Linked DNA regions of Homo sapiens. The protein of the gene in region 1 purifies or fractionates together with the protein of each later gene. This does not show direct contact. Each region holds a gene or a part of one and is shown in the gene's direction. Other genes may lie near its edges.

Evidence for each region. Proteins that work in one complex are often made in the same cells at the same time.
Region 2: the proteins of PHF20 (region 1) and KAT8 purify together in Homo sapiens (affinity purification with mass spectrometry; 4 studies listed by BioGRID and IntAct, with this or other methods). This does not show direct contact.

The regions. Positions count from the first base shown.
Region 1 is NC_000020.11:35,775,013-35,782,033, forward strand, and holds part of PHF20 (PHD finger protein 20), read left to right. Parts: intron 1-7,021. UniProt on the Homo sapiens protein: Methyllysine-binding protein, component of the MOF histone acetyltransferase protein complex.
Region 2 is NC_000016.10:31,113,289-31,120,671, forward strand, and holds the start of KAT8 (histone acetyltransferase KAT8), read left to right. Parts: upstream 1-4,375; 5' UTR 4,376-4,393; coding exon 4,394-4,604; intron 4,605-4,770; exon of another isoform or gene 4,771-5,568; intron 5,569-6,897; coding exon 6,898-6,972; intron 6,973-7,050; coding exon 7,051-7,226; intron 7,227-7,383.

The DNA.
Region 1 (7,021 bases):
GTCTGTCTGAGCAGTACCTAATAAAATATAGTATACTGAAAGTGAACAGATACTTTGTCTCTTTCTTTGGCTGCTTGATACTTTATCTGTGTACTGCCGTACAGTGCACCCTTAAAGTATTCTACACCAGTGCTTCTCAAACTTGAATGTGCATGTAAGTCACCCAGGGGTCTTGTTGAAATGCTGATTCTGATTTGGTAGATCTAGGATGGGACCTGAATGCATTTCTGATTTGCAGGTGATGCTGATGTTACTGAACTACACTTTTAGTAGTGAGGTTTCATACACGAAGACAAAGTTTCTCTGTGAAAATAGGAAGGTGGTGGTTAGCCTTATATTTTTTTATTTTATCTTTATCCAGACACACATCCCTTAAAAGTTTGTACAAGGCCATAGTCCCCTTTATTAGTTATACTCAATTAGTTATTCTAGCACATAGCTTTTTAAATATTGGCCAAAACTGGCTGGGCACGGTGGCTCATGCTTGTAATCCCAGCACTTTGGGAGCTGAGGCGGGCAGATCACGAGGTCAGGAGTTCGAGACCAGTCTGGCTAACACAGTGAAACCCTGTCTCTACTAAAAATAGAAAAATTACCTGGGTGTGGTGGCAGGCACCTGTAATCCCAGCTACATGGGAGGCTGAGGCAGAATACTTGCTTGAACCCGGGAGGCGGAGGTTGCAGTGAGCCAAAATTGCACCACTGCACTCCAGCCTGGGCCACAGAGTGAGACTCTGTCTCCAAAAAAAAAAAAAAAAAAAAGGCCAAAACTTCTCCAGGAGTTTGGTTTCTGTGTGTATATATATATATTTTGGGTGGGGACAGGGTCTCATTCTGTCACCCAAGCTGGAGTGCAGTGGTGTGATCACGGCTTACTGCAGCCTCAACCTTCTGGGCTCAAGCGATCCTCCCCTCAGCCTCTTGAGTTTCAGGGACCACTGGCACGTGCCACCACACCTGGCTAATTTTAAATTTTTTGTAGAGATGAGATCTTGCCATTTTGCCCAGGTTGGTCTTGAACTTCTGGGCTCAAGCAGTCCTCCACCTTAGCTTCCCAAAGTGTTGGGATTATAGGTGTGAGCTGCCATGCCTGGCTATTGCCAAATTTAAATGGTTACATATTTCTTACTTGAATGTGAACATAATTATTGATATAGAATCATTCTAATAAATACTGCATAGCCAGCTTGTCTGTCTGGTTCCTCATCCTACCATGAGTAGGGAGTCTGTGATACCCCAAATCAGTGGGTCACAGGTGTTGGAATTTCCAAAGAGTCCTTCTTGGTTTTCTGGGTTCTGGAAATGGGCCAGGAAAAGCCAGGATAAAGCTATGTTCCCCGACCTCGAATGGAAGCTTCTGGCTTTCTCTAAATGGGTGCTCCAGAAAGACAAATGCTGGGGAGAAGATGATATTCTTTGATGGTGATCATGCTTTATGATGATCTTTCTCCTTTTGTACCCACATGTCTAATCTATTCTAAGTCTCAAGTGGGTTTTTCCTTTTTTCAAAAAATTTTTTTGGAGACAAAGACTACCTCTGAAAGTGTTTTTCCTTTCTAAGTGTGTTGGATCATCTGTACCTATTTCCCTGGCTGTCACCTGTCTGGCCCTCTTCCACGTGATCCTGTTGCCAGCCCTAATCAGGACAAACCTGAATGACTAGACTATTTTGTGTCCCTGTCCTCCTCCAACCCCTATTCCTCACATGAGTGTCAGATCCTATTCAGTAACGGATTTGATCTGGATTTGGCTCTAGTCCTAGCTCTTCCATTTACTGTGAGACCTCAGGCAAGTCACTTAATGCTATGGGCCTGCTTCTCCCCATTTGTAAAATGAGGGGCTGATGATCTGCAATGTCCACCCTGGCTGAATCTTGGTCGCTACCTTGCTTAGAAACCCCATTGCCTGTGGTAGCTTGTTGCAGCAGATCTGATTTCTTTCATGTGCTCCCTTGGGCAGCCTGCCAGTTATTCCCTTGTCCAAGTCACTTCTGCCATTATCTTTTTTTCTAGCTGAGGCAGCCAGCTTGTTCTCAACCCAACTTCAGCGTTCTTCTTGCTTCCATGTCTTCTTCCAGTTCCATGCTGTATTTCATTCAGAACTACCTGAAATCCTCAAAGAAGTCTTCCTGAGTTCTCCATTCAATGTTTGTGACTTCTCTGCCTTACCAAGAAGGAGTCTGTACCTTATATACCCCGTATTTACTTGTCAGTTCTCTTATCTAATGTATACTTAAAAAGGGACTTCATTTCCTCCATACCACAGCTTTGTTTTTTGGTTTGAATTAGCAGGGCAGGTGGCATGAAATTTAAAGAGGAAGCAAGCAGGTTGTTTGCCTTTGGCTGGGATTTGGGGAAAGTATGAGATGTAATGTTTTTAGTCCCCTTCCCCAAGATCTCCTGTATCTGTGGGAATCAGTTGCCTGGTATGTCTTCCTGGATTGTAAAGGTGCTTAAACTTCCTTTCTGAAGTTTGAAAGTGTATCCTAAGTGCAAATACCATTTGACAATTACTCGTGGTTGGGTGGGTGCAGTGGCTTACGCCTGTAATCCCAACACTTTGGGAGGCCAGAGTGGGAGGATTGCTTGAAGCCAGGAGTTCAAGACCAGCCTGGGCAACAAAGTGAGATTCCTGTCTCTACTCCCCCACCAAAAACAAAAAAGTAGTCAGGCATGGTGGTGCGTGCTTGTAGTCCCAGCTCCTTGGGAGGCTGACGAGGGAGTTCAGAGTCTGCAGTGAGCTAGGATTGTACCACTGCACTACAGCTGGGTGACAGCACGAGACCCCATTGCTTCCAAGTGCTCTTCTAGGAACACACAGCCACAAAACCCAGAACAAGGAATTGTTAAGGATAATGATAAGAAATCTGTATTTCAAATAACTTAACAAATGAATAAAACCAACAGTTCTTTGAGAGCACCTGATTATTGTCAAAGACAGTTGCTGAGGGGGCTTGGAAGTCAGGACTTAAAGGTATATTTAACCTCTGGAGTTTTCTTCTTTCATCATCTTCCTAAGAAATAATAGGGAGGATGTTTACATTTTTCTTGATAAAGTCTTTTTATTAATTTTATTTATTTATTTATTTTGAGAAAGGGTCTTGCTCTGTTGCCTAGGCTGGAGTGTAGTGGCGCAGTCTTGGCTTACTGCAACCTGTGCATCCTGAATTCAAGCGATTCTTGTGCCTCAGCCTCCTGAGTAGCTGGGATTATAGGTGCGCACCACCATGCCCAACTAATTTTTTGTAGTTTTAGTAGAGACAAGGTTTCACTATGTTGGTTAAGCTGGGACATTTTTCTTGATAAACATTCTTTAAACCAAAATGTATGCTTAGTCAAGATCCTTGATTGGATTATGAGCCTAGAGAAAAGGAGGGTGATGTCTTTGTCTAATCCATCTTTGCCAGTGACTGCCCCTTACAGGCTATTGACTATAGGGTAACCTAATGAAAATTGAGACAGGCACTGTGGCTCACGCCTGTAATCCCAGCACTTTGGGAGGCCAAGTCGGATGGATCACCTGAAGTCAGGAGTTCAAGACCAGCCTGGCTAACACACAGTGAAACTCCGTCTCTACTAAAAATACAAAAAATTAGTCAGGCGTGGTGGCAGGTGCCTGTCATCCCAGCTACTAGGGAGGCTGAGGCAGGAGAATGGCTTGAACCCGAGAGGCAGAGGTTGCAGTGAGCCGAGATTACACCACTGCGCTTCAGCCTGGGCAACAAGAGTGAAACTGTGTCTCAAAAAAAAAAAAAAAAAATTGAACCCTTAATTTGTAATAATGCTTTGACAACTTTGCTAGATCTTGGGCTAGGTCCTACCTGGACCTTCCTCTCTTTTGCCAAATAATGGAACTAATGAGCTGGCAGAAATCCTGTACAATTTTAGAAGCCTAATATGAGTGACTAAATGTAAATAGGACAGTTTTAGGAAAGAGTGGTGGAGCCTGAATCAGTGAACTTTGGGGAAGGAGCAAGAGGAGGGGCTTGGGATTTAAACAAAGGGTTTTTTTTTGTTTTGTTTTGTTTTTTGTTTTTTTTTTGAGGTGGAGTCTCACTTCGTTGCCCAGGCTAGAGTACAATGGTGCAATCTCGGCTCACTGCAACCTCTGCCTCCCGGATTCAAGTGATTCTCCTGCTTCAGCCTCCCAAGTAGCTGGTACTACAGGTGTGTGCCACCTCACCCTGCTAATCTTTTATATTTTTGGTAGAGACTGGCTTTCATCATATTGGCCAGGCTGGTCTCGAACTCCTGACCTCATGATCCGCCTGCCAGGGCCTCCCAAAGTGCTAGGTTTACAGGTGTGAGCCACTGCGCCTGGCCTAAACCAAGGTTTTTATTCAGTGATAGTTTATTCCATGTCAGGAACATAATTCTCAGATTTTAAAGGCTGACTTCCAGGTATCTTAGAAGGATATTTGGGGGTCTCTGTCCTAGTAGAGACCTGATTTTCAAGAGGTCTCTTTCTCATATGGAAAAAGTCCATAGCTGGTGGATTGACATTCCTTTCTTTCTTTTTTTTTTTTTGTTGAGGCGGAGTCTCACTCTGTCGCCCAGAAGTGCAGTGGTGCAACCTCGGCACACTGCAACCTCTGTCTCCTGGGTTCAAGCAATTCTCCTGCCTCAGCCTCCTGAGTAGCTGGGATTACAGGTGCCCGCCACCATGCCTGGGTAATTTTTTGTATTTTTAGTAGAGATGGAGTTTCACCATGTTCGCCAGGCTAGTCTTGAACTCCTGACCTCAAGTGATCCACCCGCCTCGGCCTCCCAAACTGCTGGGATTACAGGCGTGAGCCACTGTGCCCGGCCAATGCCTTTCTTGCTTCTACAGGTGCACAGGTGTTGGGATTTCGAGGTTGTGGAAACTTGGTCTGGAAATGTGGGCATTTTACAATAATGATAACTATAGCTAGCATTTTTGGAGCACTGTCTTAAATGTCATTGAATCCTTACATCTGACCTATTATCCTGTCCTAACAGAGGAGGAAACTGAGATGAGTAATTTGTCCAAGGTCATTTGGCTAATAAGCAGGGCCTCGATTGGAGTCCAGGTTTCTTTGCCTCCTGTCCCAGTGCTCTTACATCCCTCTCTCTCTAGCTAACGTGCTTTTTCCCCTAGAAATTTGAGTAAGTCATTTTAACTACAAATCAAACAGGTGGCAGCCTGGAAACCAGCACTGAGGCACTTTGCCACCCTCACCCCAGATTTCTTTTTTTTTTTTTTTTTTTTTTGGGACGGAGTCTCACATTGTTGCCCAGGCTGGAGTGCAGTGGCACAATCTCAGCTCACTGCAAGCTCCGCCTCCCGGGTTTACGCCATTCTCCTGCCTCAGCCTCCTGAGTAGCTGGGACTACAGATGCCCTCCACGATGCCCGGCTAATTTTTTGTATTTTTAGTAGAGACAGGGGTTTCGCCATGTTAGCCAGGATGGTCTCGATCTGCTGACCTCATAATCCATCCGCCTCGGCCTCCCAAAGTGCTAGGATTACAGGCATGAGCCACCATGCCTGGCTCATTCTTTTTTCTTTTTTTTCTTTTCTTTTTTTTTTTTTGAGACAGAGTCTGACTCTGTCTCCCAGGCTGGAAGGCAGTGGCATGATCTTGGCTCACTGCAGCCTCCGCCTCCCGGGTTCAAGTGATTCTCCTGCCTCAGCCTCCTGAGTACCTGGGATTACAGGCGAACACCACCACACCCGGCTAATCTTTTATATTTTTAGTAGAGACGGGGTTTCACCATGTTGCCCAGGCTGGTCTTGAACTCCTGATCTCAGATGATCCACCAGCCTTGGCCTCCCAAAGTGCTGGGATTACAGACATGAGCCACTGGTGCCTGGCCCTTTTTTTTTTTTTTTTTTTTTTGAGATGGAGTTTCACCTTGTAGCCCAGGCTGGAGTGCAATGGCACGATCTTGGCTCACTGCAACCTCCGCCTCCCGAGTTCAAGTGATTCTCTTACCTCAGCCTCCCAAGTAGCTGGGATTACAGGCATGTGCCAACACGCCTGGCTAATTTTCTGTTGTTAGTAGAGATGGAGTTTTACCATGTTGGTCAGTCTGGTCTCGAACCCCTGACCTCAGGTGCTCCACCCACCTCGGCCTAAAGTGCTGGGATTACAGGCGTGAGCAAGATTTTATTCTTTTTTTTTTTTCTGAGATGGATTCTTGCTCTGTCACCCAGGCTGAAGTGCAGTGACACGATCTTGGCTCACTGCAACCTCCTTCTCTGGGGTTCAAGTGATTCTCATGCCTCAGCCTCCTGAGTAGCTGGGATTATAGGCCTGCACCACCACATCCGGCTAATTTTCATATTTTTGATAGAGACGGGTTTCACCGTATTAGCCAGGTTGGTCTCCGCCCGCCTCAGCCTCCCAAAGTGCTGGGATTACAGGCGTGAGCCACTGTGCCTGGCCTTCATTCTTGACCATGCAAAACATCCTTTAATTGTAGAAGCCCAGTTCTCCCAACTCAAGCTGCCTTTCTACATTTTTCTTTCTTCTTCAATTTTTGTTGTTGTTGTTGTCGTGGTCAGATACACATAATATAAAATTTGCCATTTTAACCATTTTTAAGTTATATAGCTTACTGGTATTAAATAATGTTGTGCAACCATCACCACTCTCCATCTCCGTAACTCCTCAAAATTGAAACTCTGGGCCGGGTCCAGTGGCTCATGCCTGTAATCCCAGCACTTCGGGAGGCTGAGGCAGGTAGATCACTTGAGGTCAGGAGTTCGAGGCCAGCCTGGCCATCATGGCAAAACCCCATCTCTACTAAAAATACAAAAATTAGCTGGGCGTGGTAGCACATGCCTGTGATCCCAGCCACTAGGGAGCCTGAAGCAGGAGAACTGTTTGAACGCGGGGGCGGGTGGAGGTTGCACTGAGCCAGGATTGCTGCACTGCACTCCAGCCTAGGTGACAGAGCGAGACTCCATCTCAAAAAAAAAAAAAATTATAACTCTGTACCCATTAAACACTGACTCCCTCTTTCATGAACCTCCTCCCAGCCCCAGCAGCTACCATT
Region 2 (7,383 bases), on another chromosome or scaffold:
ACCCTTCACGGGGATGGAGGGGAAGTTGTATGTGGAAGCCAAATGGCAGGGGCTAGGAAACCACAGTGACTTGCTAGACTGAAAAATCCCGCCAGCTGCAAGGCAGGGTGCTGAGGCTGGAGAGGCAGGCAGCAGTCAGAGGCCAGGGCCCTGAAACATGGGATTTATCTTGAGCCATAGGGATCCATGGGTGAGTTTTTATTTATTTAGAAATGGGGTCTTGCTCTGTTGCCCAGGCTGGAATATGGTGGCTGCAGAGTTCACTGCAGCCTTGAACTCCTGGGATCAAGAGATTCTCCCACCTCAGCCTTCTGAGTAGCTTGGACCATCATGCCAGGCTAAATTTTAAAATTTTTTGTAGAAACAGGGTTTCTACAAAGCCCTATGTTGCCCCGGGCTGGACTTGAACTTCTGGGCTCAAATGATCCTTCCACCCCAGCCTCCCAAAGTGGTGGGGTTACAGGCATGAGCCACTGCAGCTGGCCCATGAGTGGGTTTTGAGCTGGGAAGGGATGTTTCTGGTTGGAGTCCCTGAGAGGATTCATGTCCACGTGATTTCTTAAGAAAGTGCTCCCAGAACAGAGTAGGGGAAGTAGGAAGGGGAAGGGGAGGAAGCCAAGCAAGGATGTGACCTCAGGCAAAAGCCCAGAACCAGTCAATTATGCCTCAGGGTTGAAGGTAAGAGAGCTAAACCTCAGAGTTACTGATTAATTTCTCCACTTGGCAGTCACTGGTTAAAGTCAGTTGGGAAAGTGAACAGCTCTATTAACCTAAGGATGGTTTTTTAAGAAGAGCCTCAGGTGCTGGTGTGGGTCTTTGAAAGCACATCAAAGGTAATCTGGGCACACAGAAACAGCAAGAACTCCCAGAGGATCTGGGTGGAGCACCTACATTGTTTTTTTGTTTGTTTTGTTTCGTTTTGTTTTTTTAAACGGAGTCTCAATCTGTTGCTCAGGCTGGAGTGCAGTGGCTGGATCTTCGCTCACTGCAACCTCCGCCCCACCCCCCCCCAACCCCAGGTTCAAGCGATTCTCCTGCCTCAGCCTCCCGAGTAGCTGGGATTACAGGCGCGTGCCACCACACCCAGCTAATTTTTCTATTTTTAGTAGAGATGGGGTTTCACCACGTTGGCCAGGCTGGTCTCGAACTCCCAACCTCGTGATCCATCCACCTCAGCCTCCCAAAGTGCCAGGATTACAGGCATGAGCCACCATGCCTGTCGGATGTTTCTTGATTTGTAACCTCTGAGAGACCCATCCGCAGGCCCTGAGCATTCCACTCCTCTCAGAATTGTTTCCAAGCCCAATAACCACATTATAAATCAAACAAGATTCAGAGAATAGCCAAAGGGAATGTTTACTGAGTACCTACCCGGTCTGGCACTTTGCAATACACTTGTATATTGCTAAGACGGATAGTTCAACCGTTACATAGTTATATGATTGATAGTTATACATGCTTAACTGCTGGGGATTGGTTCCAGGACCGCCTGTGAATACCGAAATCTGCAGGCGCTCAAGTCCTACAGTTGGCCCTGCCAAACAGCAGATATGAAGTCAGCTCTTCAGATCTGTGGGTTCTGCATCCTTACAATATTTCCTTTCCTTTCCTTTTCTTTTCCTCCCTTCCTCCCTCTTTTTTCTTTTTCTTTTTTGAGATGGAGTCTTGTTGTGTCGGCCAGGTTGGAGTGCAGTGGCGCGATCTCGGCTCACTGCAACCTCCACCTCCTGGGTTCAAGCAGTTCTCCTGCCTCAGCCTCCCAAGTAGCTGGGATTACAGGCACACGCCACCACCCCTGACTGTTTTGTATTTTCAGTAGAGACGGGGTTTCACAATGTGGGCCAAGCTGGTTTTGAACTCCTGACCTCAAGTAATCCACCTGCTTCGGCCTCCCAAAGTGCTGGGATTACAGGTGTGAGCCACCGCGCCCAGTCTTTTTTTTTTTTTTTTTGAGGCAGAGTTTCACTCTTGTTGCCCAGGCTGGAGTGCAATGGCACAATCTCAGCTCACCACAACCTCTGCCTCCCAGGTTCAAGCGGTTCTCCTGCCTCAGCCTCCCGAGTAGCTGGGATTACAGGCATGCGGCCACCACGCCTGGCTAATTTTGTATTTTTAGTAGAGATGGGGTTTCTCCATGTTGGTCAGGCTGGTCTCGAACTCCCGACCTCAGGTGATCTGCCTGCCTCGGCCTCCCAAAGTGGTGGGATTACAGGAGTGAGCCACTGCGCCCAGCCTCCTTTTCTTTCCCCCCTTTTTTTTTGAGACAGGGTCTCTGTCACCCAAGCTGGAGTGCAGTGGAGGGATTATAGCTCACTCAGCCTCGACCTCCTGGGTTTAAGCGATCCCTCTGCCTCAGCCTCCTGAGTAGGTGGGACTACAGGTGCGGGCCCCGAGGCCCAGCTAATTTTTTTTTTCCCCCAAATTTTTAGTAGAAAGGAGGTCTCTATGCTGCCCAGGCTGGTCTTGAACTCCTGGCCTGAAGCGATCCTCCTGCTTGGATTCCTGAAGTGCGAGATTACAGGTGTGAGCCACCATACCTCAACACTGTATTTTCAACCCGCTCTTCGTTCAATCTCCAAAGGTGGGACATGCGGATATGGAGGGCCGATTGTGTATGGTTGGACCATACACATATAAATGGCTTTAACCTTTACTGACTCTCACAGAACCCTCAGTGCAGTGGCGTGATCTCAGCTCACTGCAAGCTCCACCTCCCGGGTTCACACCATTCTCCTGCCTCAGCCTCCCGAGTAGCTGGGACTACAGGGGCCCGCCACCACGCCCGGCTAATTGTTTTGTATTTTTTTTTAGTAGAGACGGAGTTTCATCGTGTTAGCCAGAATAGTCTCGATCTTCTGACCTCGTGATCCACCCGCCTAGGCCTCCCAAAGTGCTGGGATTACAGGCGTGAACCACCGCACCCGGCCTTTTTATTTTTTTTGAGATGGAGTCTGGCTCTTGGTCCCCAGGCTGGAGTGCAATGGCGGGATCTCGGCTCACTGCAACCTCCGCCTCCCGGGTTCAAGCGATTCTCCTGCCTCAGCCTCCCGAGTAGCTGGGACTACAGGTGCGTGCCACCACGCCCGGCTAAATTTTGTATTTTTAGTAGAGACGGAGTTTCACGGTGTTAGCCAGGATGGTCTCGATCTCCGCCCGCCTCGGCCTCTCAAAGTGCTGAGATTACAGGCGTGAGCCACCACGCCCCGCCCAACTCGTCCTTTCTTTAGACTTTATCCTGTGAGGGTGAATTATGGCCTGTCCCTGGACACACCCGTTCTGCTTTCCCCGCACCAACTGTATCCCAAATAGGGGAAGTAGTCTCTTCAACCTTCAAAAATGGGGCACTGGCTGGGCACGGTGGCTCACGCCTGTAACCCTAGCACTTTGGGAGGCCGAGGCGGGCGGATCACCTGAGGTCAGGAGTTCGAGACCAGCCTGGCCAACAGGGTGAAGCCCTCTCTCTACTAAAAATACAAAAAATAGCCGGGCGTGGTGGCGCGCGATTGTAATCCCAGCTATTCAGGAGGCTGAGGCAGGAGAATCGCTTGAACCCGGGAGGCGGAGGCTGCAGTGAGCCGAGATCGCGTCACTGCACTCCAGCCTGGGCGACAGAGCGAGACTCCATCTCAAAAAAAAAAAAGGGGGGGGGGCGGGGAGCGACATTAGGCCAGCGCGAGTGTGCGGCTCCAGGCCACCAGGGCGGCCGCTCTGGCTCTGCCCTGTTAAAGTGGGGGCAGCGCCCGCTGAAAATTGGCACATCTTGGCTTCCGCAGGTACCAGGGCCTTTAAAAAGGTTCAGCTGGCCGGGCACGGTGGCTCACGCCTATAATCCCAGCACTTTGGGAGGTTGAGGCTGGCAGATCACGAGGTCAAGAGATCAAGACTATCCTGGACAACATGGTGAAACCCCGTCTCTACTAAAAATACAAAAATTAGATGGGCGTGGTGGCGCGCGCCTGCAGTCCCAGCTACCCGGGAGGCTGAGGCAGAGGAATCGCTTGAACCCGGAGGCGGAGGTTGCAGTGAGCCGAGATCGCGCCTCTGCACTCCAGCCTGGGCGACAGAGCATGATTCCGTCTCAAAATAAATAAATAAATAAATAAATAAATAAATTAAAAAAAGGTTGAGTTGAGTCATCGCATGAGGTAAGTCTGTCTCCTCTCCTCACCCATAGGCTGCAGCCACAGGTCCGCACGGAAAACCAGGAGCTCCAAGACTGCCGCACACTCAACATCCAACTCGCGGGGCCGCGGGGACGGCCACAGAAGCCAATCGGCTCCTGCTACATCACAGACCCCGCCCTCAAACCTTGAGGAGCCCGCCCCACGCACTGCTGACCCGGAGCCAAAAGAACTGCGTGGCGTCCGATTCTGGCGTCACTTCCCTTCCCGCGATGGCGGCACAGGGAGCTGCTGCGGCGGTTGCGGCGGGGACTTCAGGGGTCGCGGGGGAGGGCGAGCCCGGGCCCGGGGAGAATGCGGCCGCTGAGGGGACCGCCCCATCCCCGGGCCGCGTCTCTCCGCCGACCCCGGCGCGCGGCGAGCCGGAAGTCACGGTGGAGATCGGAGAAACGTACCTGTGCCGGCGACCGGATAGCACCTGGCGTGAGGGCGGGGCCCAGGGCTGGGGGCGGGGCGGAGCTCAGGGCCAGGGGGTGGGGCGGGGCCTGAGGACAGGCTGTCAGTGAGGCCAAGATCCGGGGGCTGGGAGTGGAGAGGAGGAGGGGCGGGGCTTGAGGAAAGAACGCCGCGTTCCGGGCGCTGAGAAACCAGCCGGGTTGTGGGAGGCTGTTGACCTTGAATTATGCCGAGCGACGCCTACAAACCCACCGCTCAGGCCTTCACCAGGATTGTTCCCATTCCACTTCCTTGCCCAGTCTTAGGCTTCATTCCTTTTTCTTGCTAACGCTGCTTCCTCACCCTCTCTTGTCTCTGCGTCTTCTTTTTCCATTTGTCCCTGGCAGCCATCCGCAGAGAGAAGACCTTCCAGAAACAACAGGCTTCCCTTTCCTAAAGTTCTGCTGCCTTCTCTCATTTTCAAAATTAACCCCAAACTCCTTAGGGTGGCATTCATTTTTGTGACCTCTCCAGTTTCTAGCCAACACTAGGAAAGGGCATTGCCAGGCCAGAACACACTGTGCCCTCTGAAGACCACACGCCCTTTACCACCTGTGCCCTTTGCTTGGAATGCTTTTTCTTCCCTTTCTCCTTGTTTGCCTGCCTAGCTCCTACTCATCCTCTTAGCTTCATATCCTTTGTGATGTCATCCTTGATTCCCCTTCAGGCAAAGTGAGTGGTTCCCTTCTCTATGTTCCTGCAACATTTTTTTCCTACCTCAGTCATAGTTTTTGTAACATTATGTTGTAATTTTCTCTCTCTGTCTTCCTCCATCATACTGGGAACTTCTGGAGGGCAGCACTTCTTGTGATTCATCACTGTGTCCTCTGTACCCGGCAACAACACAGCATAGGGCCAGACACGTAGTGGTTGCCTTACTCATTTATTGAATGCTCTGCTAATTGTCAGGTGCGCTGCTAAAAATTTTGGAGGCATTAATTCACCTTCTAAGGTTGGTACTATTATCCCTTTTGTCTTTTTTTTTTTTTTTTTTTTTGAGACAGGATCTCGCTCTGTCACCCAGGTGGGATTGCCGTGGCACGATGACAGCTCACTGAAGCCTAGACCTTCTAGGCTCAAGTGATCCTCCCACCTCACCCTCTCAGAGTGTTGGGATTACTGGCATGAGCCACTGTGCCCAGCTGTTATCCCTTTTCACAGATGAAGAGACTGAGGCTCAGAAAGATGGAATAACTTGCTCAGTTACACATAGCTAGGAAGTAGGGAGCTGGAATTTTGTGTATTTTTTTTTGTTTGTTTGTTTGAGATGGAATCGCTCTCTGTTGCCAGGCTGGAGTGCAGTGGCGCCATCTTGGCTCACTGCGATCTCTGCCTCCCGGATTCAAGCGATTCTCCTGCCTCAACCTCCTGAGTAGCTGGGACTACAGTTGTGCGCCACCACACCCAGCTAATTTTTGTATTTTTAGTAGAGACGAAGTTTCACCATGTTGGCCAGGATGGTTTTGACCTCTTAACCTCGTGATTCACCCACCTCGGCCTCCCAAAGTGCTGGGATTACAGGCGTGAGCCACGATGCCCAGCCCTGGAATTATACATTAATGTAGGTTATCTTAATCCAGAGCCAGCACTCATGATCCCTGAACAAATGAACAACTGCGGGTATGTGGTAAAATGAGCATTGAATTTAGAGTCAGACTTAAATTCAGTTAAGTATTAGCTCTTACCACTTTTCAAATCTGTGACCCTAGGTAAGCCTCAGTTTTGTTCTGTTTTTTGGGGTTCTTTTTTTTGAGACAGAGTCTTGCTCTTGTCACCCAGGCCACAGTGCAGTGGTACAATCTCGGCTCACTGCAACCTCTGCCTCCCGGGTTCAAGCAATTCTCCTGCCTCAGCCTTGCCTCCCAGGTTCAAGCAATTTTCCTGCCTCAGCCTCCCGAGTAGTTGGGATTACAGGTGTGTGCCACCATGCCTGGCTTTTTTTTTTTTCGTCTTTTTGGTACAGATGGGGTTTTGCCATGTTGACCAGGCTGGTCTCAAACTCCTGGCCTCAAGTGATCTGCCCATCTCGGCCTCCAGAAGTACTGGGATTACAGGTGTGAGCCACACACCCAGCCAGTTATTTTCTCATTCGTAAAATGAGAATAACAGCCTCAACCTGATCCACCTCACAGTTGTGGCAGTGATTGAGTAGAATGGCAGAGGTGGACCAGTGAGGTTAGCTGATGTGTGGCCCTGAACTCTGGAAACTGCTTCTCAGTGTGCAGGATTCCTTTTGTTCCAGCCTTACCTTCCTGATGACCCTAGCCTTTTTCCATCACAGATTCTGCTGAAGTGATCCAGTCTCGAGTGAACGACCAGGAGGGCCGAGAGGAATTCTATGTACACTACGTGGGCTGTGAGTGGCTTGGCACATCTGGGCGTGGGTGCAGGGAGTTGGCTGCCCTGGCAGCACTCTTATGGCCCATACTTACAGTTAACCGGCGGCTGGACGAGTGGGTAGACAAGAACCGGCTGGCGCTGACCAAGACAGTGAAGGATGCTGTACAGAAGAACTCAGAGAAGTACCTGAGCGAGCTCGCAGAGCAGCCTGAGCGCAAGATCACTCGCAACCAAAAGCGCAAGCATGATGAGATCAACCATGTGCAGAAGGTCCGGATCCCTTCCCATCCACGGGCCCAGGAGGCCCAGCTTCTCTGCCAGTTCCCTTGGGTCTCTCGGGCCCCAGTGCCAAAACCATAGCAAATCCCATTTCTTAAGCTCCTGTAGTGTGTCAGGGACTTTACCTACTTCCTCTTACTTACTTTTC